Regions from separate parts of the Homo sapiens genome. Here region 1 is linked to region 2. The links come from fine-mapping of genetic effects on gene expression. A gene starts in region 2. The other region holds a variant in brackets. All regions are shown on one strand. Distances are between the middles of the regions.

Region 1 (11,641 bases), 29 kb before region 2:
CACCACCATCAGGAGGGCTGAATCCAAATGTTTCCAGATCCTGCTGTGGCTCCTTTCCATGTGGCCTGGCCTGGGTCACATGCCCGCCCCAGCCAAGGGCAGAGCCAGGCATCTTGGCTTGGCAGACCCCCTAAGATTACCCTGTGCAATGGGTGTTGGGCTGTTCCCTAGAGAAAAACATGAGATTCATCACCAAAATAAGGGATCTGCAGGCTGCACAGGCAAAAACAGCAGGACTGTTTACAGTTAGCTTTGATTTCTTCAGTATTATACAGAGAGTTATGAAGAGCATACTTAACCATCCTCCTTTTCACTTTTGTCCAATTATGTCCTCAGAATAACTTCTAGAATGTCTCTCTGTCTCAAAGCCACTTTGCAGTTCCCCAAGCCCCAGGCTCCCCCGCCAGGCCCGTGCGGCTGTCTACCTCTCCTCTCCTGTCCTCTGCTGTATTGCTGGGAGGAAATTGTAAAAATGAATATTTTAAAATGTATCCTCCAGGAGGGCCCTTGCAGGTGGAGAAATATCATCCTTTTGGCAACTTAACTCCATTCCACGGATAAAAATAAGTACGACTCAAGACAGGCCGAGAGGAGAGAGGAATTAAGGGATGACTCATCCTCACTGAAGGTAGGAGAGAGCTTTGCAAGCCACAGAATCTGAACACCCAAACCTCTCACTGAAGGTAGGAGAGAGCTTTGCAAGCCACAGAATCTGAACACCCAAACCTCTCCCTGAAGCAGCCCTCTCCTTCCCCAGCTGGGGGTCAGCCTGTGGCTGCCAAGCTCATTTTAAGCCTCATCTGCGCCCTCGCTGAGGATGGAAGCACCATTTGCACCTGCTTCCCTCATAGAAGGGTGTGATGTCAGCTCCTTCCCAGAAAGCTTCATCAACACCCAGCTCCTGGCACTGAGGTCTGCAGAGCCTCAAGGCCCCGGGAAGGGGGACGAGCAGGGCACAGTCCTTTTCTAGGTGCCTCCCTTTAAATGACTGGCTATTTGGTCAGACCAGCCAAATGCATTGGGAAGAAAAGCAAAAATGGAAAATCTGATTTAAAGGCAGCATCCAAGATGGATGCTCAGTTCCGTTCCCTCTGCTTTGAGGAGGTGACCCCACTGTGGTTTGAGAAAGTGCTAGAGATGAATGGGCCAGCTTCCCCCAGCGTTTCCCCTGGGGGCCTGTCCTTGGAAGTATGGTCATTGGTCATGTGGCACAAAGATGCTCGGCCCTCTGTGACTAATGCTTAATTACACCCTACTGGAGGAAGGGGGCTGATTCTATTTTTTGTATCTGAAAATATCAGTTTGGTTTCCTATATTTGGAGCACTGTTTTGTTCCTGCTCAGCCTGTCTCTTAAGTCAGAGCTTCTCAAACGTGCACAGGAATCACCTGGGAGCTTGTTAAAATCCAGGTTCATGTTCAGCGGCTCTGGCATGGAGCCTGAGATTCTGCCTTTTTTTTTTTTTTTCCTGACACAGGGTCTTATTCTGTCACCCAGGCTGGAGTTCAGTGGGGCCATCATAGCTCACTGCAACCTCCATCTGCAGGGCTCAAGCAGTCCTTCCACCTAGCCTCCTGAATAGCTGAAACTACAGGTGTGCCGCCACATCCAGCTAATTTTTTTTTTGTCGCTACATTTCTCAGGTTGGTCTCAGAATCCTGGGCTCAGGCTATCCTTCCGCCTCAGCTTTCCAAAGTGCTAGGATGGCAGGCATGAGCCACTGTGCCCAGCCAGATTCTGCTTTTCTCTAACAAGCTCCCGGGAGATGCTGATGCTGCCAGTCCTTGGACCACACTTTGAGTAGCAAGACCCCAGTTGGTGGCCACTGCCTTGGTTTCTGCCTTTTATTTGCATCCCTGGAGCTGTAACTGCTCCAGAGTGGAGTAGAGGGGCTCAGGTATTAGGATAGCATCTATAGATACCTTGACTGCAAAGCGACCTACCTTAAAACAGGTGTGTGCCTGCCACCTATGTCAACAGCTCTCCATTCTTCAGGACAGCCAGGATAAGACAGGAGCAGGCTGCTGGTGGCTTAGAACAGTGGCGTCCAATAGGGTCACCCCATGTGGATCTGGAATACTTAAAATGTGGCAAGTGCAATGGAGGAACTAAACTTTTAATTTTATTTCCTTTTTTTTTTTTTTAATTGACCAGAGTCTCGTTCTGTCACCAGGCTGGAGTGCAGTGGCGCGATCTCGGCTCACTGCAACCTCTGCCTCCTGAGTTCAAGCAATTCTCCTGCCTCAGCCTCCCGAGTAGCTGGGACTATAGGCGTGCGCCACCACACCCAGCTAATTTTTTTTTTTTTTTTTGAGACGAAGTCTTGCTCTGTCGCCCAGGCTGGAGTGCAGTGGCTTGATCTCGGCTCACTGCAACCTCTGGCACCCGGGTTCAAGCAATTCTCCTGCCTCAGCCTTCCAAGTAGCTGGGATTACAGGTGCATGCCACCACTCCAGGCTAATTTTTGTATTTTTAGTAGAGACAGGGTTTCAGCATCTTGGCCAGGCTGGTCTTGAACTCCTGACCTTGTGATTTACCCGTCTCAGCCTCCCAAAGTGCTGGGATTACAGGCGTGAGCCACCGCGCCTGGCCAATTTCATTTCATTTTAATTAAATTTAAAGAGCTATGCATTGCTGCTGGCTGCTGTTTTGGACAGTGCAGAATTAGAACTCAGAAAGCAACTACCCTGTTGGTGCTGCAAAGACCTCCATCACCTGCACCACTACATAAATCATGTTAGCAGAAAATACATTGTTTAGGGACTCAAGGATTCCCTTGAACATACCTGGTTATTTTTATACTCATCCCAGCCTGTTTTCTGCACAAGCCTCTGAGTTTGGTTTTGTTTTGTTTTGTGTTTTCTTACTCACTGTCTGCAGCAGGGCATGCAGTGGGTAGGCTGAAGGCAAGAGAGGCAGAGGGGTGCGACAGGAGAGGACAACCCATGTCGGTTTCATACAAGCACAACATTTGAAACTGGTGGACCTGTGTTCAGCTCTGCCCTGCCCTTTTCCAGGACTGTGTGGCCTTGGGCAAGCCCCTTAGTTAAGCTCCTCTGAGCCTCTGCTTTTCCATCCATGGAAAAGGAAAGTGCTTTCAAGGGTTAATCGAGCCTCCCCACCCCACCCCTTGTAAGAACTCAGTGCATCCTAGCAGTGATTGTTATGATGTGAACCTCTTTGTAAACTATAAAACCTTGTGTAAATGTGAGGCAAAACACTGCTGTCAAAAATTCTTCTTTTTAAACAAAATGCTCTGAAACTTGGGGGAAACCGCATCAACCAGGCCCAGGAGACAGACCAAAATCTCAAAGCAATAAATCTGAACGTTTTCTGCTTTTCCCATTGAGGAAGCATTTTGCCATTAGCTAGCCCTGAATCTACAGAAATTGGGAAACTGGGATGAAGATTTGTTGACTGTCCAAGGTCTTCCAGGGACCCGTCTGGTGGTGGGGGATGCTCGGGCAGGGGCCCAGGGCTGAGGAAGATGCCGAGAGCTTGCCCAGGAATGTTTGAGGTCCAATTAGTGTTTCCTCTTCATGGAGTACCTGATAAATCCTGTCTACAAAACTTTGGAAGGGAGATGGGCAGGAAAAGATGGCACCCCCATTTATAGAGGAGGGAACTGAGGCCCTAACAGGCTTGCTCCAGGGTCAGGCTCTGCAGCCCTAGCCACCTCCTGGGTCAACTCCTACATTGCTGATGTCGTACTTTCACCTTCTCCACTGTTGAATTAACCCTAGCCCAAATTTCTGGAGCATCTGCTCTTCCAAAGTCTGACTCAATAGAGATGAGATTCCCAGCAGCTGCCCGAGGTTAGAAAATACCAGCACACTCCTTTTCCTCTGGCAGTTATCCTAGCAAAATCATGCTCCCAGAACCCAGATAACCCAGATCCACGATGTCCTCGCCATCCAGGGACCAGAGCAAGGACAGAGTGTAAACAGCAGAGAACGGAGAAGATGTGGGCCAGCGCCATACCCCTCTGGGCCACTTCTCAAAGAGAGAGACCTTCAGGGATAATTCCATCGTCTTGCACAAGTTACAAAATTTCAACTGTGGCTTTCCCAGGTCTTAGGACCTGCATGGACCACCTTCTCCAGGAATTGAGTTCGCACGGAGATCACTAGAGATGGAGAGGTCAGGGATGGCCCCTGGGGAGCTGACATTTGTGACAGGCTGTGCAAAGAGCATTCCAGGCAGAGGGAACAGTGAATGCAAAGGCTCAGAGGCAGGAAGTGTTGTTGCATCTGAGACACAGAAAGGCAGTAAGCGAGTGGGAGGGTCTGGGGGGTCAAAGGAAGTCGGCAGAAGGGGTTCCATCCCTCAGTGCCTGGTGGGCAGGTAAGTACTTGCTGTGGTTTGAATGTCCCCTCCAAAACTCATGTCGAAATGCAATTGCCTTTGGATGGTGTTAAGAAGTGGAACCTGGCTTGTTAAGAGGTAATTAGACCATGAGGGCTCTGCCCTTGTGAATGCATTAACGTGGGTTGTTCTGAAAGCCGATTCAGCCCTCGCTTGCTTGCTTGCTTGCTTGCTTGCTCTCTGGCACTCTTCTGCCCTTCTGCCTCTGGCCACAAGTGGACGCAGCACGAAGGCCCTTGCCAGATGCAGGCCCCCAACCTTGGATTTCCCAGCCTCTAGAAATACATTCCTTTCTTTATAAATTATCCAGTATGTGGTTTTCTGTTATAGCGACATAAAATGGACTAAGACAGAGTTTAATTTTAATCTGAGAGCAGCAAGAAGCTAGGAAGAGTTTAAAGCAGCACATGAGATGACCCACTTTACATTTCTGAAAGTTTCCTCCGACTTCTGAGTGGAGAGACCTAGGAATTCTTTTTCCTCTCACATCTGTCTCAGTGGAAAACCATTCTCAGATTCCTAAGCGGAAGCTTCTGAAGCCTGTGCCCCAGGAGTGCCGCGAGGCCCGAGTGCCCTCTGCCCTGTGTGCATGACCTCTCCTCTGCTTTTTTACTCCCTGGGTTTTGAGGAGCCTGGGAGACTTCAAGGGCACCAGAAACCTTTCCTCTGACCCTTCTTCCCTGTAGCCGTGGATCAAGCCTCCAGGCTGCTGCCCCCTCTGTTTCTACCACTCCTTTCAAGCGGGCCCAGCTGCGCTTTTAAAAAATGGAAGCTGCTTCCCAAGGTGGCCCGGCTCCTTCTCTCGCACATGCGCCAACGGAGGCTGTTTGTGGGGCCTGGGGCCTTCTTTTCATTCTTCTTTGAAACCTTCAGGATTTGTGGCAGGTATGAAGTCAGGGAGTTCTGGGTCTCTCAAAAGCACATATTGCTGAAACATAACATTGTCTACCTTCACCCCTCCTCCATGG[G/A]TAATTCCAAGCAGGACACTGAGTGCTCCGCACCTGCCCAGGTTCTAACTAAGTCTGCCTGGCTGGGTCACCTTCTGCTGTGTCATTCTCCGTGTGCTTCCTGAAGGGTCCTGACTCCACACGGTTCCCCACCTATGATCACCATGTGGTCTGGACACCTTCCCTGTCCACAGCTCACCTGATCACCAAGGGACCACCCCACAGCCTTGACTGGTGCCACCAACTATAGCTCTCAAGGTCCTCCCAGGGGTCATGGAGCCATTTGGATCCCTAATATCTCCCGATCCCCTTAGCCTATCTTTGGAGCAGTCAGGAACTATCTGCCTCCTCTTCCCTTTCATCTGTGTCCACGTGTCCCAGCTGTCTCCTGAGAAATCACTCCTTTCCTCCAGCCCAGTCAGCATGTCTGCCTTCATCATGCTGTAATTTTCCAAAGCTCCAGTGTTTCAAACCGGTGTTTCAAGGCAGTTCACTTGAGGCCAGGAGTCCAAGGCTGCAGTGAGCTATGACTGTGCCCTAGCAAGCCCAGCCTGGGCAACAGAGTGAGACCCTGTCTCAAATAAAATAAAATATAAAATAAAATAATAAAATAAAATACTACTGTTTTCCATGGCTCCGGTGTTAAGCCTTTGTTGTGCTTTAATTTTCCGTGGCTCTAGTGTTTTAAACCAGTCCTATTTCTCCTTGAGTTTTTAAGTGAAACTTTAAAAAAAAATTTTTTTTGAGATATAATGTAGATACAGTAATGTGTAAAATGCACTATTCTTTTTTTTTTTTTTTTTTTTTTGAGACACGATGTCACTCTGTCGCCCAGGCTGGCGTGCAATGGCGCAATCTCAGCTCACTGCAAATTCCGCCTCCCAGGTTTAAGCGATTCTCATGCTTCAGCCTCCCGAGTAGCTGGGACTACAGGACCACACCCGGCTAATTTTTGTATTTTTGGTAGAAACGGGGTTTCACCATGTTAGCCAGGTTGTTCTTGAACTCCTGACCTCAGGTGATCCACCCGCCTCAGCCTCCCAAAGTGTCGGGATTACAGGCGTGAGCCATTGCACCCAGCCTAAAACGCACTATTCTTAAATGACCAGCTCAAGGAATGTTGACCTATATGCACGCTCATATGACCACCTCCCCAGTCAAGATCAAGACTATTCCAGCACCCAGAAGGCTTGCATGTGCTGCTTCTAGTCAATACCTGCCATCCCCAGAGCAAACCCTATGTGGACCTCTTTCACCATCACCTAATTTCAGGCACAGACATTTCATTCTTTTCATGGTTTTTTGCATTATAAACATTCCACTGAGGCTGGGTATAGTGGCTCACACCTGTAATCCCAGCACTTTGGGAGGTCAAGGCGGGAGGCTGGCTTGAGGCCAGGAGTTCAAGGCTGCAGTGAGCTATGATCATGCCATAGCACTGCAGCCAGGGCAACAGAGTGAGACCCCATCTCAAAATAAAATAGGCTGGGTATAGTGGCTCACAACCATAATCCCAGCACTTTCGGAGGCCGAGGTGGGCGGATCACCTGAGGTCAGGAGTTAGAGACCAGCCTGGCCAACATGGTGAAACCCCATCTCTACTAAACATACAAAAATTAGCCGGGTGTGGTGGCAGGCGCCTGTAATCCCAGCTACTCGGGAGGCTGAGGTGGGAGGCTCTCTTGAGCCCAGGAGGCAGAGGTAAGAGGATCAGTTGAGCCTGGGAGGCAGAGATTGCAGTGAGCTGAAGTTGCACCACTGTACTCCAGCCAGGGTGACAGTGAGACCTTGTCTCAAAAAAAAAAAAAAATCCTCTGCATTTTCTGTCTTAATTTATATGATACAACTTATAACCACTTAGCTCCTGTCTAATAAGGATGCTCACACTTTCTTGTCTGGTCATTATGAAGCCCTCTTGTACCCATTTGTGGTAAAAAAAAAAAAAACCTCTGAAGTGCACAACCAAGATCAGAGATGATGAAATAAAGCCTCTCAGATGCAAGCTGAGCTATGCCTCTCCCTTGTTTGGGTGACTAGCTCATCCCAGTTAGGGCTTTCTTGCTTGTAGGACCGAATATCCCACATCCTCGGTGCTCCATCAGTGTCAGTCCTGAGCAGACCAGGGTGGCTGACCCCCCAGCACGGTTCCCTCCTTGGCCCTGGACCCAGTTCAAAACACACAAGACAAGTGGAACAGAATTCAGGCCAGATCATCCGGTACCATCTGCCTGTGCCTGACACTCACCGTTGGAAAGGCCCCGAATGTCAAACTCTTTTTTGTGGCTTGTGTGTGGAACTTGGCCGTCTTTACATTTTCTCCCTCAAAATCACTGGAGAGCTGGTAAAAATGTCCCTCTTTCCCCCAACCAACTGGGGGTTGGCCCCAAGCATTGGTCTCCTTCAAAGGCCCCAGGTGACTAGTGGGCAGCCAGGCTGGGTAACCAGGACCTCTGCACTCGTGATGCTGAGACTAAATCTGTCCATCTGGCAAAGTCCCGGGGGCATTTACTGACCCCGGGAAACAAATCTCTCTCCCAGCCTGGACAGTACGAGAGCCAAGCCAAGCCTGTCATGACCTCTAACGTTAATCTATTTTTTGGCTAATCACAGCCACAGCTCCATGCCTGTAAATCCAGCCAAAGCCACTCAACATTCCAAGACACGGCGGCATCTGTGGCCACATAGGCCAAAGGCGGCTTCTCTTCTCTCTCTTCAATGATCTCATTGAATCTTGTGGCTTTAAGTGCCATTTTTAGACTGGCAACTCCCAGATTTATAATCCACGCCCCCCTTCCCTACCGTTCATAGCCCCATAGTCATACACACACAACTGCCTCCTTGACACCTCCGTGAGGGTGACTCTCAGGCATCTTTTTTTTTTTTTTTGAGCTGGAGTCTCCCTCTATCACCAGGCTGGAGTGCAGTGGTGTGATCTTGGCTCACTGCAACCTCAGCCTTCCAGGTTCAAGCGATTCTCCTGCCTCAGCCTCCCGAGTAGCTGGGACTACAGGCGTGCGCCACCACGCCCAGCTAATTTTTTGTATTTTTAGTAAAGATGGGGTTTCACCATGTTGGCCAGGATGGTCTCGACCTCCTGACCTCATGATCCGCCCACCCCAGCATCCCAAAGTGCTGGGATTATAGGCGTGAGCCACCACGCCCAGCCAGCTCTCAGGCATCTTAACCTGGCAGACTGGACCAAGCCTTCTCCCCAGCCGGGGTCCCTCCAGGGTGCCTCATCTCAGGATGGTGCCACCAGCTACCCAAGCTCAACCCATGGCTGATGCTGGTCTTTCCTCTTGCCGTCCACTTCTGACCCATCCGCAAATCCTGTCTGTGGCTCTGCTACACTCATATATCTTGTCCACGCCTGCCCAATCCCTGCCATCTTATGTCTGGGCGACTGCATTAGCCTCCTGTCTCCCTCCTTCCTCTGTCCATCCCCTAACTCTATTCTCTACCCAGAAACCAGAAAGATCTTTAAACAAACATCAAAACCAAGAGGCTTTACTGGGATATCATTTACATGCCATAAAATCCACCCACTTCAAAGATGGACAATTCATGTTTTTTTAGTATATCACAGAATTGTGCAAGCATCATTATAATCTAATTTTAGAACATTTTATCACCCCAGAAGAAACTTTGTACCCATTAGCAGTTACTCCCCAGCCCCCTCCTCCCGGTCTCCCACTATAGCCCCAGGCAACTGCTAATTTAGTTTCTGTCTCTCTGGATCTGTGGATTCTGGACATTTCACTGAATGAATCACACAAGCCGTGGTCTTTGTGTTTGGCTTTTTCCACCCAGCTTAAAGTTGCTAAGGTTTATTATTGCCCACTAATACTTATCAAATGGATACACCGCATTGTTTATCCATTCATTGCTGGAAATTTGGGTTGTTTCTGCATCTGGGCTATGAGAAAGGTCTTTTAAAAAACAAGTCACCAGCCGAGTGCGGTGGCTCACTCCTGTAATCCCAGCACTTTGGGAGGCCGAGGTAGGCGGATCACTTGAGGTCAGGAGTTTGAGCCCAGCTTGGCCAATATGGTGAAACCCTGTCTCTACTAAAAATACAAAAAGTAGCCAGGCTCGGTGGCCGGCACCTGTAATCCCAGCTACTCTGGAGGCTGAGGCAGGAGAATTGCTTGAATCCGGGAGGCGGAGGTTTCAGTGAGCCTAGATCGCGCCACTACACTCCAGCCTGAGCGACAAGAGCAAGATTCCATCTCAAAAACAAACAAACTAACAAAAAACCAAGTCACACATTGTCACCACCCTGCTTAACACCTTATAATGGTTTCACATCATATCTAGAATGAAGTTTGACCAAGTGCCGTGACTCACACCTGTGGTCCCAGCTACTTGATAGTCTGGGGTGGAAGGATGCTTTGAGCCCAGGAGTTCAACGTTGCAGTGAACTGAGATCGTGCCACTGCACTGCAGCCTGGGGGACAGAGTGAGACCCTGTCTCAATAAATAAATTGAATGAAGTTTGTTGCCGAGGCCTGCAAGATTCCGACGTCCTGTCCCAGCCTCTGTCACCAAGCTTTTCTCTTCCCATAACTCACTCTGCCTTCTGTGTGTCTCCTGGACATACCAAGCTTGTTTCCACCCCAGGCCTTTGCACCGGCTCTCCCCTCTTCTCCGTGCCTGGGACGCTCCTTCCTCGATTCTTCTCATAGCTGGCTGCTTCTTCCCGTTCCAGGCGCAGTGTATGTGTCACCTCCCAGCTACGGTGCTGATGCCTGCCTGTGGCACTGTGCCACAGTGCCCTGTCTCACTCCTTCACACTTACCTTTCTCTGAAATTACCTTGTGTGTCTGTCATTTCCTTCCTCCGAGTAGAATATTCAGCCCCCACAGAGGAAGTGCCTTGCCCGTCTTCTATAATACTGTGTTCCCAGGGCTGAGAACAGTCCCTGGCACACAGCAGGTATTTAGTTTGCGGAGAGGCCCACGTGGTCCGGGCATGCTTAAGCAACTCCTGCAGTGGCACCTGTTTCCCCCAAGTGATCCTTTGTTCTCAAATGTTGGTCCTATTATTGGCTGCCAAGATGTTAGGGTTGGGTTTGGGGAAAATCACTTGCCTCTCTAGGGTCCCAGATGAAGAGAAGAAACACAAAAAACAAAGCCAAATGGCCCTCTTCCTGGCTCACTGTCGCCGGTGAAACTGGAATGGAAAATCCTAATTTGATTTGATTCCCTGGAGGGCAGCAGCGCCCCCTGCGGGAAGAAGGCCTTTCCTGGTGAGTTTACCCCAAAGAGACAGGAAGCAGAAGAGAGGATGCTACTAGGAGGCAGGCAGGGATGTGTGTGTGTGTGTGTGTGCGCGCGCGCGCGTGTGCGTGTGTGTGTGCGCGCGTGTGTGTGCGCGCGTGTGTGTGTGTGTGTAGGAGAGAGAAAGAGAGAGAGACACACACACATCAGGGGTGTGTGTGTGTGTAGGAGAGAGAGAGAGACACCAGGATTCGAGGCAGTGACCCTGCCCCTACTTAAATGTGGCTGCAGGCAGGTCAGGCTCCCTCCTCTTCTCATGGGTGGATGGAGTGGCCTGGAGTGCTTACACCAACACCCTCTGCGCAGGGAGGTGGGTGTGGGTGCCCCCAGGCAGAAGCTGGGACCCAGTAGGGAGTCTGAAGGGTGCTGCAGTGGCTGAATGTCCCTCTCTTCTGATGCCTCCACATTGTCTCAGTGGTAAAGTCCAGGCTTTTCACAAGCTGGCCAGCGTGCCAGCCCAACCTTCCTGCCTCCTCCTCCTCCCTCTTCACACTTCCCCCCCGGGTCCCTCTGCTCAAATCCACTGGACTATATTCTCGAGACGCTACGGATACTCCATCGAGTTTCACATCACTGGGCCTTCACCTCTGCTGTTCCCACCCTCTGGAATGATCTTCCTGGGTGCTATGCCTGGTGAGCTCCTGAAGTCAAGGTCTGGCCAGACCTCTGCTCTGGGAAGCCTCTTCTGAGCCCTCCTGATAGTCAGGGGGACCCTCCTCTGTGCACACCCCTCTCAGAGCACTTACCCCTCGAGAGGAGGGTTGCAGTATCCATTGACTCATCTGGAAGAGCAGAGACTGTTTTGTTTTCTGATGGACACCCAATCGCCAGGACACGGCATAGTAGCCCTTCAATACATGTGTTGGAAGGATGAATGAGCGAGTGCCCACTAACCTCCGAGACCCTCATGGACGTGGCCAGTGCGTCACTCACCTTGCTGTGGTTCCCATTGGCTGCCAGTTCCCAAGTGTCACCCTTGCCCACTGGGAGGCAATAGCAAGGTGCCAAAGAGATCCTGCAGGGCTGCCCCAGCCAGAACCACCCACTAGGC
Region 2 (9,728 bases):
GAGTGGAAATCAGACGGGACCCCCTGCAGCTTCCCTGACCACGCCACTGACCAGCTATCTGGGGAAGTTTACTGTGAAGGGGTTTCTGCCTTTAGCAATGGGGTTCACTAAGGGGGTTCCCGAGGCCCAGGGCCAAGGCACTCCCACCGCCTACCTTAGCACAGGGTCTCTGCAGGACTGCGGGAGCCAGCGCTCCTGCCGCCCCTCTTGCCCCTCAGACCTTGCATCCACAGAAGCACAACCCAGCCAAACACCACAGCCTTCTCCAGAGCCGGCACTGTCCCGGCAACCAGGGGTGCCCCAGGCTAGCTCTTCTACCTCTGGGGCACCACGGACTCCCCTTGGCCACTCTTGGGACTTTGGTCCACGTCCTGAGCCACTGACCACGGCCAGTCTCTCTTTTTATATGTGCAGAAAAGTGTTTTTACACAAACTTTCTCATGGTTTGTAGGTATTTTTTTATAACCCCAGTGCTGAGGAGAAAGGAGGGGCAGTGGCTTCCCCGGCAGCAGCCCCATGATGGCTGAATCCGAAATCCTCGATGGGTCCAGCTTGATGTCTTTGCAGCTGCACCTATGGGAAGAAGTAGTCCTCTCTTCCTTCTCCTCTTCAGCTTTTTAAAAACAGTCCTCAGAGGATCCATGATCCCCAGCACTGTCCCATCCTCCACAAAGGCCCACAGGCATGCCTGTACTCTCTTTCATTAAGGTCTTGAAGTCAGGCTGCCCCCTCCCCAGCCCCCAGTTCTCTCCCCACCCCCTCACCCCACCCGGGGCTCACTCAGCCTGGCAGAGGAAGAAGGAAGGCAGACATCTCCGCAGCCACTCCTGGGCCTTTTATGTGCCGAGTTACCCCACTTGCCTTGGGCGTGTCCACTGAGCCTTCCCCAGCCAGTCTTGTTCTCAATTTTGTTTTGTTTTGTTTTGAGACGGAGTCTTGCTCTGTCACCCAGGCTGGAGTGCTATGGCTCGATCTTGGCTCACTGCAACCTCCACCTCCCAGGTTCAAGCAATTCTCTTGCCTCAGCCTCCCGAGTAGCTGGGATTACAGGTGCATGCCACCATGGCTGGCTAATTTTTGTATTTTTAGTAGAGATGGGGTTTCACCATATTGGTCAGGCTGATCTGGAACTTCTGACCTCAGGTGATCCACCTGCCTCAGCCTCCCAAAGTGCTGGGATTACAGGCGTGAGCAATCGTGCCCAGCCTTGTTCTTAATTTTGTATCATCCAGTCATCGCTAATATTACACGCACCTTCTCACTTAATCCTCACGACAAGCCTGTGAGGCAGATGCTCATTGTTCCCATCTTGATGAAACTTGAGTCTCAGGGAAGTGAAGTGACTTGCCCAGGGTCACTCAGGTAGAGTTGAGATTCAAACCCACATGTGGCTCCAAAGTCTGCATCTGGATTTGGGGGTGTTTTTTGGCATGGCACCCTCACCTCTCTCCCTGCCTGTTTTCCCCAAAGTGGAAAGGAAGGCCTTTCAAACCAGAGTGTCTCACTCCCCTCTGACCTCCAGACCAGATGGGGCATGAGCCAGCCAGCTCAGCCAGGCTCCCTGTGTCCTGGGAGGAAGTGTCCCCATCCCCCATGCCCCTTATGGGGAGGGAGGGCGTCTGATGCTCTCTCTCTGCCTCCCCCCCCATCCTGTCAGGCACAGGTGACGGGGGCAGCCCATGCGAGCCCTTCTCCTGCTGCTCTGGGAGGGCCAGTTCCACATTGAGCCAGCCTGGTCCCATGGAAAATGATGGCCTGGGCTTTCTGAGGCCTTATCTGATGCCTCTGCAGTTCATGTCCCCCACCAGGCCTCGAGGCTCAGGGTGGGAGAGGGCCCCGGGCTGCCCTGTCACTCCTCTAACACTTCCCTCCCCTGTCCCCAACATGCCCTGTAATAAAATTAGAGAAGACTAACTAGAGTGGTTCTAAGTGCTTTTCCTTTGAGTGGCATGTTGCTCAGCTCCGTCCTTCCATGGGGTGGCTCCCTCTTGGGGCAGAGTTGAGCTGGAATGCTTTCAGGTACTATCTTACCTATCGAAGGCTTGAGTGACTTGCCCAAAATAAGTTTTACGATAGAACAAGTGGTAGGACTTACTGTTTTGAGAATCTGGTGCTCTCTGTTGAGAGAGATCTGGGAGTTAAAATCATTGTCTTAAAAGCAGAGCCTGAGACAGGCATGAAGTGTTTTTTTGTTTGTTTGTTTTGTTTGTTTGGTGGGGCTGGGGGGGAGTGTACTTCCAGAAAAACCAGTAAAAGAAGGAAGGAAGCAGAAGAGGGAAAGGAAAAATGCTGAGCAGGAACAGTCTCAGCCCAGCCTTGGCCTGACCCACAGTGGAAGAGCTGTGGGGCATAAACCACACTGCAGAGCTGAACTGGCCTTTTGGACCTTTTATCAGTCATTGGCTTGGGAGGTGAAGGAAATTCCCAGGTAGGGAGCTCCGTTCTTCCTGCAAGGGGATCTGAGTGGGACACCAAATCAGCATCTACACCCAGGACAGACAGCCAGCGTGGACTTGCATGATCCGCCATCGCACAGGAGGGAAAGGTAATGATTAAAACACAATGTGCCATCCTGGGAAGAGGGCCAGACCTGGAAGTCAATCTTCAGCGTTTGAGATATGGTGGAGATCAGGGTGGACGACCTCTGAGGTCTCTAGCCAGGACCAGTCACATAATTTGCACAGCCCCGTGCAAAATGAAAACACAAGAACCCCTATTAGAAAATCATTTCAAGACGGCAACAGCAAAGTACTAAACCAAGTACAGGATTCTGAGCATGCGGCCCGTTGTGACTGCATGGGCTGTTCACCCATGAAACCAGCTCTGTCTCTGGCAGAGGGGACTGCAGGCTTTGGAACCAAGGAACTCCAGCCTGGGAGCCAGGCACAGCCCGAGGCTGTGCTGAAGGCAGAGAAGGAAATGTGACCCAGGAACTGCATGCCACAGACCAAGACAGTGAGGGCTGGAGCACAAAGAGGGAGTGGGTTAGTGAGCCTGGAAGGAATGTGGCTCTTCCCACAGAGCCTCTGGAGTCTTGTACATCAAGTACCCATCTAATAAGCAAACTCATTGAATATACCGTGTGTGTGTGTGTGTGTGTGTGTGTGTGTGTGTGTGTGTGTGAGAGAGAGAGAGAGAGGCTAAAATAGAAGAAAGCTGCAAAGTGCTGGAGGGCAGGAGTCAAGAGGAGAAAGAGGCCCATTCTGCGCATTCTTGCTGGAGAGAGGCTTTGCAAAGGGACCTGCCTGGGAACCAAGAACTGGGAAGGGGGCCAGGGTGAGGATTCTGAAGTTTGCCCTAGGGGTAGGAGCATATTTTAGGGGTCGAGCGACACACCCCTGGGCTTCCAGAAGTCGGATGGGGCTAAACGTGGAGAGCAACAAGCAGGGAGACGCGACGAATACCAGGCCGAGGGATCTCCAAACGCAGCCAACTCCTCCCGGGGACACAGACCCCGCGGGGGCACGGTCTCGATGGAGGGGAGTGTGCTCCGCGGTATCGGAGCCTACAGCCGCCAGCGCCTCGCCCACTCGGGGGCCGCGCTCCCCTCGCCACCGAGCTGGACCCGCCTCCTGAGGGTGCGCGGAGGTGCGCCTCGGTGCGCAGCTGCGGAGGATCGCTTCCGGGGGGCGGGTCAGCGGAAGTGAGGGCGGTTGAGGCTGGGCGGCCCAAGGTGGAAGGAGGGGCCGTGAGGTGAGAGAGTCCGGGAGCCCGAGCTTGAGGTGAGAAAGGTTCTAGGGAGGCGCGGAGGCGGGAGCGCGACCTTCCAGCCCGTTAGTAGACTGGGTCTACGTGCCGGGCGCTGTGCGGAGCCCGCAGCTCCTGTTCCCGCGCGAGTTCTCGCGGGAGCCGCAGCTGTCCGTCTCACTTGGCCCGGGGGAAACTGAGTCCCCGAAGGGTAGTTGCTCGTCGGAGTTCCCCAGCAAACAGTGACCAAGCCAGACCTCAGGCTTCTAGTTTCGGCTTCGCTGCTTGACGGGCCGGGCTGCCCCGCCGCGCATTCTGAGACCTGGCCGCGGCTCGGAGGCTTCCGCGCACTCGGGTCCGGGTCCTGTGGGTCCAAGGGCCGCTGGGCAGGCGGCGAGCACTTGGCCGACCTTGGCCCAGGTCGGGTCGTCTGCCGCGGGGGAGGGGCGACTCGCCCTGGCGGGTCCCCGCGGGGAGAGGGTCCGCGCGGGTCTCCGGCCACTGCTGCGCGCGGCAAAGTTTCACTGAGCGCGGCGGCCTCCGTGGGGGCCCCCGGGACCAGGGGTGCTGAGCAGGGCCCTGCGCTGGAGGAGCTCCCGTTCTCCTGAGGGGACGCCTGTCAGCAGACAGCAACTGCAGCCTCCGGAGGGCTGCGGGGCGCAGAGGTGACAAGACCCACCGGTGCTGCCGGCGAACCGGGGGAAGATCTTCTAGCCAGTGACACTTGGGGGCGGGGGTGACAGCTGAGTTGGTGTTCCCCTTCATTCGTTTAGTTCAGCGCGTTGAAGCGCTCACTGTGTCCTAGGCAGACACCGTGCTGTGCGCGGGGATCACAGTTATCTAGTTCCTCTCGCGAGGACTCCGAGGGACAGGCAGGGTGCTGCGGAGCGCACAGGAAAGGACCTGACCCTGTCGCAGGGAAGGAAGGTGATGCTTAAGCTGAGCTCTGAGGAATGATGAAGAATGAGCTCGGCGAAGGGGGTGCTGGTGTTTGATGCAGGGCTCAGAGGTGGGCCCAGTGTTGGGGGTTGAGGGCCAGTGTGGCTGGAGGGCAAGGGGGAGAGCAGGAGGGCTGGCTGCGAAGCGTGCAGGCCTTGGTGCTCAGTGAATGTGGTCTAGAGACGGCAGAGAAAGATGGGTTTGGGACTGATTGTGGATTTTATCCTGTGTTGGCTCTAGTAAGCCAGTTTTAAACGGATGAGCGATGTGATTAACTGTGTTTGGGAAGGATTCCTCTGGCTGTGTGTGAGGGTTAGGCCCGGCTGGGTCTTTGGAGGTAAGGTCGGAGAGGAAGTGGCAGTAAGCACCGTTAGTGCAATTTGTGGCCGACACGGACATTCAGCACAGAGCCTGGCACACAGAGGGACTCTGATAATAAAGGCTTGAACTGAGCCGAGAAGATGGAGCCCACGCAGGAGGTGGCAGGACCTGGACCAGGCTTTGGGTGCTTTGCACTGGCATGACCACTGAGTGACCTTAGACAAGTGCCTTCCCCTGTCCAACTTCCTTTCCCCATGTGTATCGTGAAGTGAATGACACCTCGTCTCCCAAGGGTAGAAGAGGGGACCCTCCACAGGAGGTCTCCAGAAAGAGCTGCTTTGTCAGTCTAGTCTATCTCCCATTCAGAGCCTGTCCAGGGCTCCCCAGTGACCCGGACCTCATGACTTGCCCCCTACTTTTGTAGCTTTATCATGCTCTGCTCCTCTTTCCATGTCCTTCACCTTCTTGTGCTGGACCTGTGCTCTTGCTGTTTTGTCTTCATTTCCTACTCCCTCGCAACTTACTACAGGGCACTAGGGCCAGAGCTCTGACCTCATCTGGCCACCTGCCTAATGCTACTCAGCCTTTGCTAGAAGTATGTATTCATGTCCTATCACTCTGCTGGACAGCGAGTTCCTTGAGAGCATGACTGTGTCTTACTCCTTCCATAGCCCCTACGGTGCCCAGCACAAGGCCTGGCACAAGTGGGTACTGTTGGTGTTTGATGAACAAGTGAATGAACGAGCACACTGATTGCATCTGCTCACCATGCAAGGACTGCTGTGAAGAGCAGTCAGATGTCACCTCACCCATCTGTGTCATGTTTTAACAGTTCATTAAGCACTCAACCCCATTTCACTCATTGACCCTTAAGGTAGCCTCCAGTGGCAGCTTTTCCTGTCTCCTTTTTCCAGATGGAAAAACCAACATTCAGAAAAGTTAAATAACTTGCCTGTAGCTACAAAGCCAGAAGGTGGCTGAGCCAGGATAAACTTTTTTGGCTCTTTTTCTCTGTAGCTCATGAGACTGAGATTGGCATGAGCTGGTGTTCGTTCTCCTATTTTCTCTGATCTCTCCCTTTGCAAGGGCCCAGCAGTGCTTTTACATCTCATCTTCAAGAATGAATCCTGGGCTTGGATAGTACTTATAATTTGGCTAGATGAGCTTTGTAGCTACCAAGGATTCTATTTGCATCTTTAGAAGTTTTGCCTCAAGAAACCTGAGAGCCCAGGAAGGCTCTTGGGTTGGCCAAGCTCACTAGGCAAATCTTTTTTTTTTTTTTTTTTTTTTGAGACGGAGTCTCGCTCTGTCACCCAGGTTGGAGTGCAGTGGCGTGATCTCGGCTCACTGCAAGCTCTGCCTCCTGGGTTCACGCCATTCTCCTGCCTCAGCCTCCCAAGTAGCTGGTACTACAGGTGCCCGCCACCACACCTGGCTAATTTTTTGTATTTTTAGTAGAGACAGGGCTTCACTGTGTTAGCCAGGATGGTCTCGCTCTCCTGACCTCGTGATCCGCCCACCTCGGCCTCCCAAAGTGCTGGGATTACAGATGTGAGCCACTGCGCCTGGCCGCAGATCTTTAACAGAACCTTTAAGAGTCTGGACTTAGAGCTAAGTGTTGGGTGAGGGCAGCCTCTTGGGCTGGTTTTCTCCCCTGTGAAGTCATGGCTCTGCAGGGCCTGGTTTTTTGGGGCTTGTGTGGTGACCATTAAATCCCCACTGTGGGGGGTTGTTTCACAAGAGGGAAATCTGGTGCTCCTCCAGATGGCCTGATATGAAGGAGTCACGCCTCCCGCCTCCCGGAGCTGCCCAGTGGCTGCCTTGTCCTTCAAGTGCAGGAGCTGGTTCAAATGTCAGGAATGGAAGCCACTGTGGTAAGGGGCATTCCCAGGGCAGGGGTATGGTGGGGAAGGTTGGGTGCTGGGCCTGCTGAAGTACTGTAAAAGGTTCTGAGACTCTCCAGTTGAGCACTCCTTTCTCCAGAGGCCTGGAATTGGAGCAAGGCCACCGTTTCACTCCCTCCCCCTAAGAAGAACCAACTATGATCCTGGGGCACTTCAGGAGTCAGTGTATGTCTGCCTTTCTGTACAGAGGACGGGAAGGAAAGCCTGGATAATCTCTACACTCAGCTACTTCCTCTCCCCTTCCCTGACCCTCCCAACATTGACTGCCTTAGCAGCAGCAGGTATTCCCTTGGGTGGCTGGCCAGGGTGTAGGCTGGCAACTGGGGAACCTGCCCTCACTATAATTGAGAGTTGACTTGCCCCTAGAGAGTGCCCTGTCCCTAGGTTTGTGGAATTCAGTCTCCACAAACCTAGAGAGGAGAGGACAAGGACAGTAGTTGGATTCATTCTCTGGGGTTGTAGCTGTCTCCGTCTCTTTGCTCCAGACCATCCCAATCTGGCAAAACAAGCCACATGGGGCTGCTCGAAGTGTAGTAAGAAGAATTGGGACCAACCTACCCTTGAAGCCGTGTGCCCGGGCGTCCTTTGAGGTGAGTATGTTGGAAGGGCAGGAGAGTAGAGGCTCAGACAGTGCTGCTTCTGTGCCCCAAACCCCTTGGTACTGCCCAAGTAGGTTGTTTCCTGGTCACTTTTCATTCTGTTATGAAATATTTGTTAAATGCTTATAAGATATCCTGGTCACTGTGTCCTCCTGAGTGCATACAAACCTGTGACCACAAGGAACCTGACAGGTCCCCCACATGGGACACTGACTATTGTGATTTTTGAGTTGAACTCTGCTTTTCTTCACCAGCCCTAAGAATTGACCATGTAGCCAGTATTTTTATTTTATTATTTTTTGAGATGAGGTCTCCCTATGTTGCCCAGGCTAGGTCTTAAACTCCTGGGCTCAAGCAGTCCTCCTGCCTCAGCCTCCTATGTAGCTGGGATTACAGGCACAAGCCACCATGCCCAGCTCCACTATTTTTAGTGTTTCTCTGAGGCCATAATTCCTCAGCCTTCTCTTTTTGGCCAATCTGGGCATCCTTTACTGGGGTGCTTTGGTCTTACCTCTGTGTCTAGGGATCCTTTAGCACCCACTCAGCAGCAGAGATTCCTACCTGGCCCAGGTCTCTTGAGACCCCTTCTGTGGTAGAAAGCTAAGTAGCATTTATTAGTCCCAGCTGCCTCCCTCTAGGAACTAAATGGTTAAGCACCAGCCCCAAACTATATGGTTCAGATGTGTGCATTTGGAGAGCTGGGATACAAAAGAAATACTTGTGCTTTCTACCCACACAGAGGAGATAGAAATATGTGCATGAAAGGATGTGGGCCCAGGTAGAAACAGAAATGAAGGAGCCAAATCTGTATAAAAGATGCTAAGAAGCAGAGTCTGTAGGAACTGGATCTGGAATTAGAAGAGGTGTCAGGGTTGGTATTAGGGTCAGGAATGGAGTTGGAAGTGTCGCAGGGGTAGGGGGCAGGAAAAGCTGTCCCAGTATTCAGATTGCCAGCTATCCAGAATTGTCTAAAGATCCTGGGCAGGAACTGGTCCTAACTTGCCTCAGAAGCATCAGAAAAAAAAAAGGGAGACAGCTAGGGAGTGTGGCTCACTGCATAGAGGCCGTCCCCACACTTGGCTATACCCTCTTCAGTTCTTTGGCCAGATGCTGGGCAGAGACAATCAAGGGCACAGGCTCTCACAGAGCAGGAATGTATGTGAGCAGTATTGGTAATACTAGATAACATTTACTGAGCACATACTATGTGTCAGGCACTGTGCTGTACTTTATATTTGTTTACTCATTTAATTGCCAAGAGCAAAGGAGCATTCAGGGCTAATCAGGAAAACAAATGGAGGCTTCCCCCAAATGCCCTATTTTAGCACTAGTTCCTGGGTCACTGGAAGTTCTTCTCTGTGTGACCTTGGAGTATCACTTAACTCCTGTGAGTCCCAGGTTTCCTATCTAAATGCAGGAGCGATCAATCCTGGATCCATCTACCATACCAAATAATTTGTAGCAGAAACAGTTGAATCTTACTTGTGTGTAAATATGCATTTATTATTATTATTAAATTACCTTAAATATTATTTAAGGGACTCTTACCAATTTATTTTGAAAATTTAAGCATATGAAAATATTAAAATTATGAAAAGTAAAAGGAAAATAAATTACCTATAATTACATAGTAATAATACAATAACTATTAATGTCTTAGTGTAGTCCTCTTTTTCTAGATGGATGTTTTTTACTTTGTTGTAATCACAGTCAACATGACTGAATCCTAATTTTTCACTTTACTCAACATCTCTAGGTTGAGGAGCTATTTTAAGAAATCCTATTATGGTTCCTTTTGTATAATCATTTATTTTTATTTAAATCTAAATATATTCAAATTTTCAGGTTTGTTTAAAACAGCATTGCTGTAACAATGTAGATCTCAATTAGCTATACAGGATTATAAAAAGCTAGTCAGGAAAAATTTCCTATTGCTGTAACAGGTTGTGGATGACCTTGTACTTGTATTTTCACCAGAGGGCACAGTGGTTTTAGACAGTTGCCATCTCTACTAAAAGGTGACTCAGGCCTTTTCCACTGAAGACACAGAACTGTTTGTAATCCCATAGACTCTCATGTGTCTTGCCTGTTTTTGTTTTTGAATGTGGCTCTGTTGTCCACGCTAGAGTACAGTGGTGCAATCTCAGCTCACTGCAACCTCTGCCTCCCAGGTTCAAGCCATCTTCCCACCTCAGTCTCCTGAATAGCTGGGACTACAGGCGTATACCACCATACCCAGATAATTTTTGTATTTTTTGGTAGAGGCAGGGTTTTGCCA

Which allele goes with the higher level. Alleles are on the strand shown, and positions count from the first base shown. SD is a standard deviation of normalised expression in the study named.
As copies of G replace A in region 1, the expression in ileum of the gene that starts at base 3,647 in region 2 goes down (small effect, 0.33 SD a copy in GTEx).

The links. PIP is the estimated chance that this variant, and not a neighbour inherited with it, causes the effect.
Region 1: its variant is fine-mapped to the expression of MTFR1L in ileum (GTEx, PIP above 0.99).

The regions. Positions count from the first base shown.
Region 1 is chr1:25,786,476-25,798,116 of GRCh38, forward strand. No RefSeq gene overlaps it. Among named protein-coding and RNA genes, the nearest start is that of SELENON, 7.9 kb to the right of the region's middle. The variant G/A (reference allele first, on the strand shown) is at 5,333.
Region 2 is chr1:25,816,308-25,826,035 of GRCh38, forward strand. It overlaps MTFR1L (mitochondrial fission regulator 1 like), which reads left to right and starts at 3,647. Exons shown (of 7, transcript NM_001099625.2): 1 at 3,647-3,722; 2 at 6,712-6,821; 3 at 7,337-7,441. The coding sequence starts at 6,798. SELENON (selenoprotein N) reads left to right here. Exons shown (of 12, transcript NM_206926.2): 12 at 1-1,914. It overlaps LOC646471 (a long non-coding RNA gene), which reads right to left and starts at 7,299. Exons shown (of 1, transcript NR_024498.1): 1 at 3,647-7,299. RefSeq lists enhancers at 1,690-2,190, 3,833-3,972, 4,353-4,442 and silencers at 3,433-3,622, 4,073-4,242.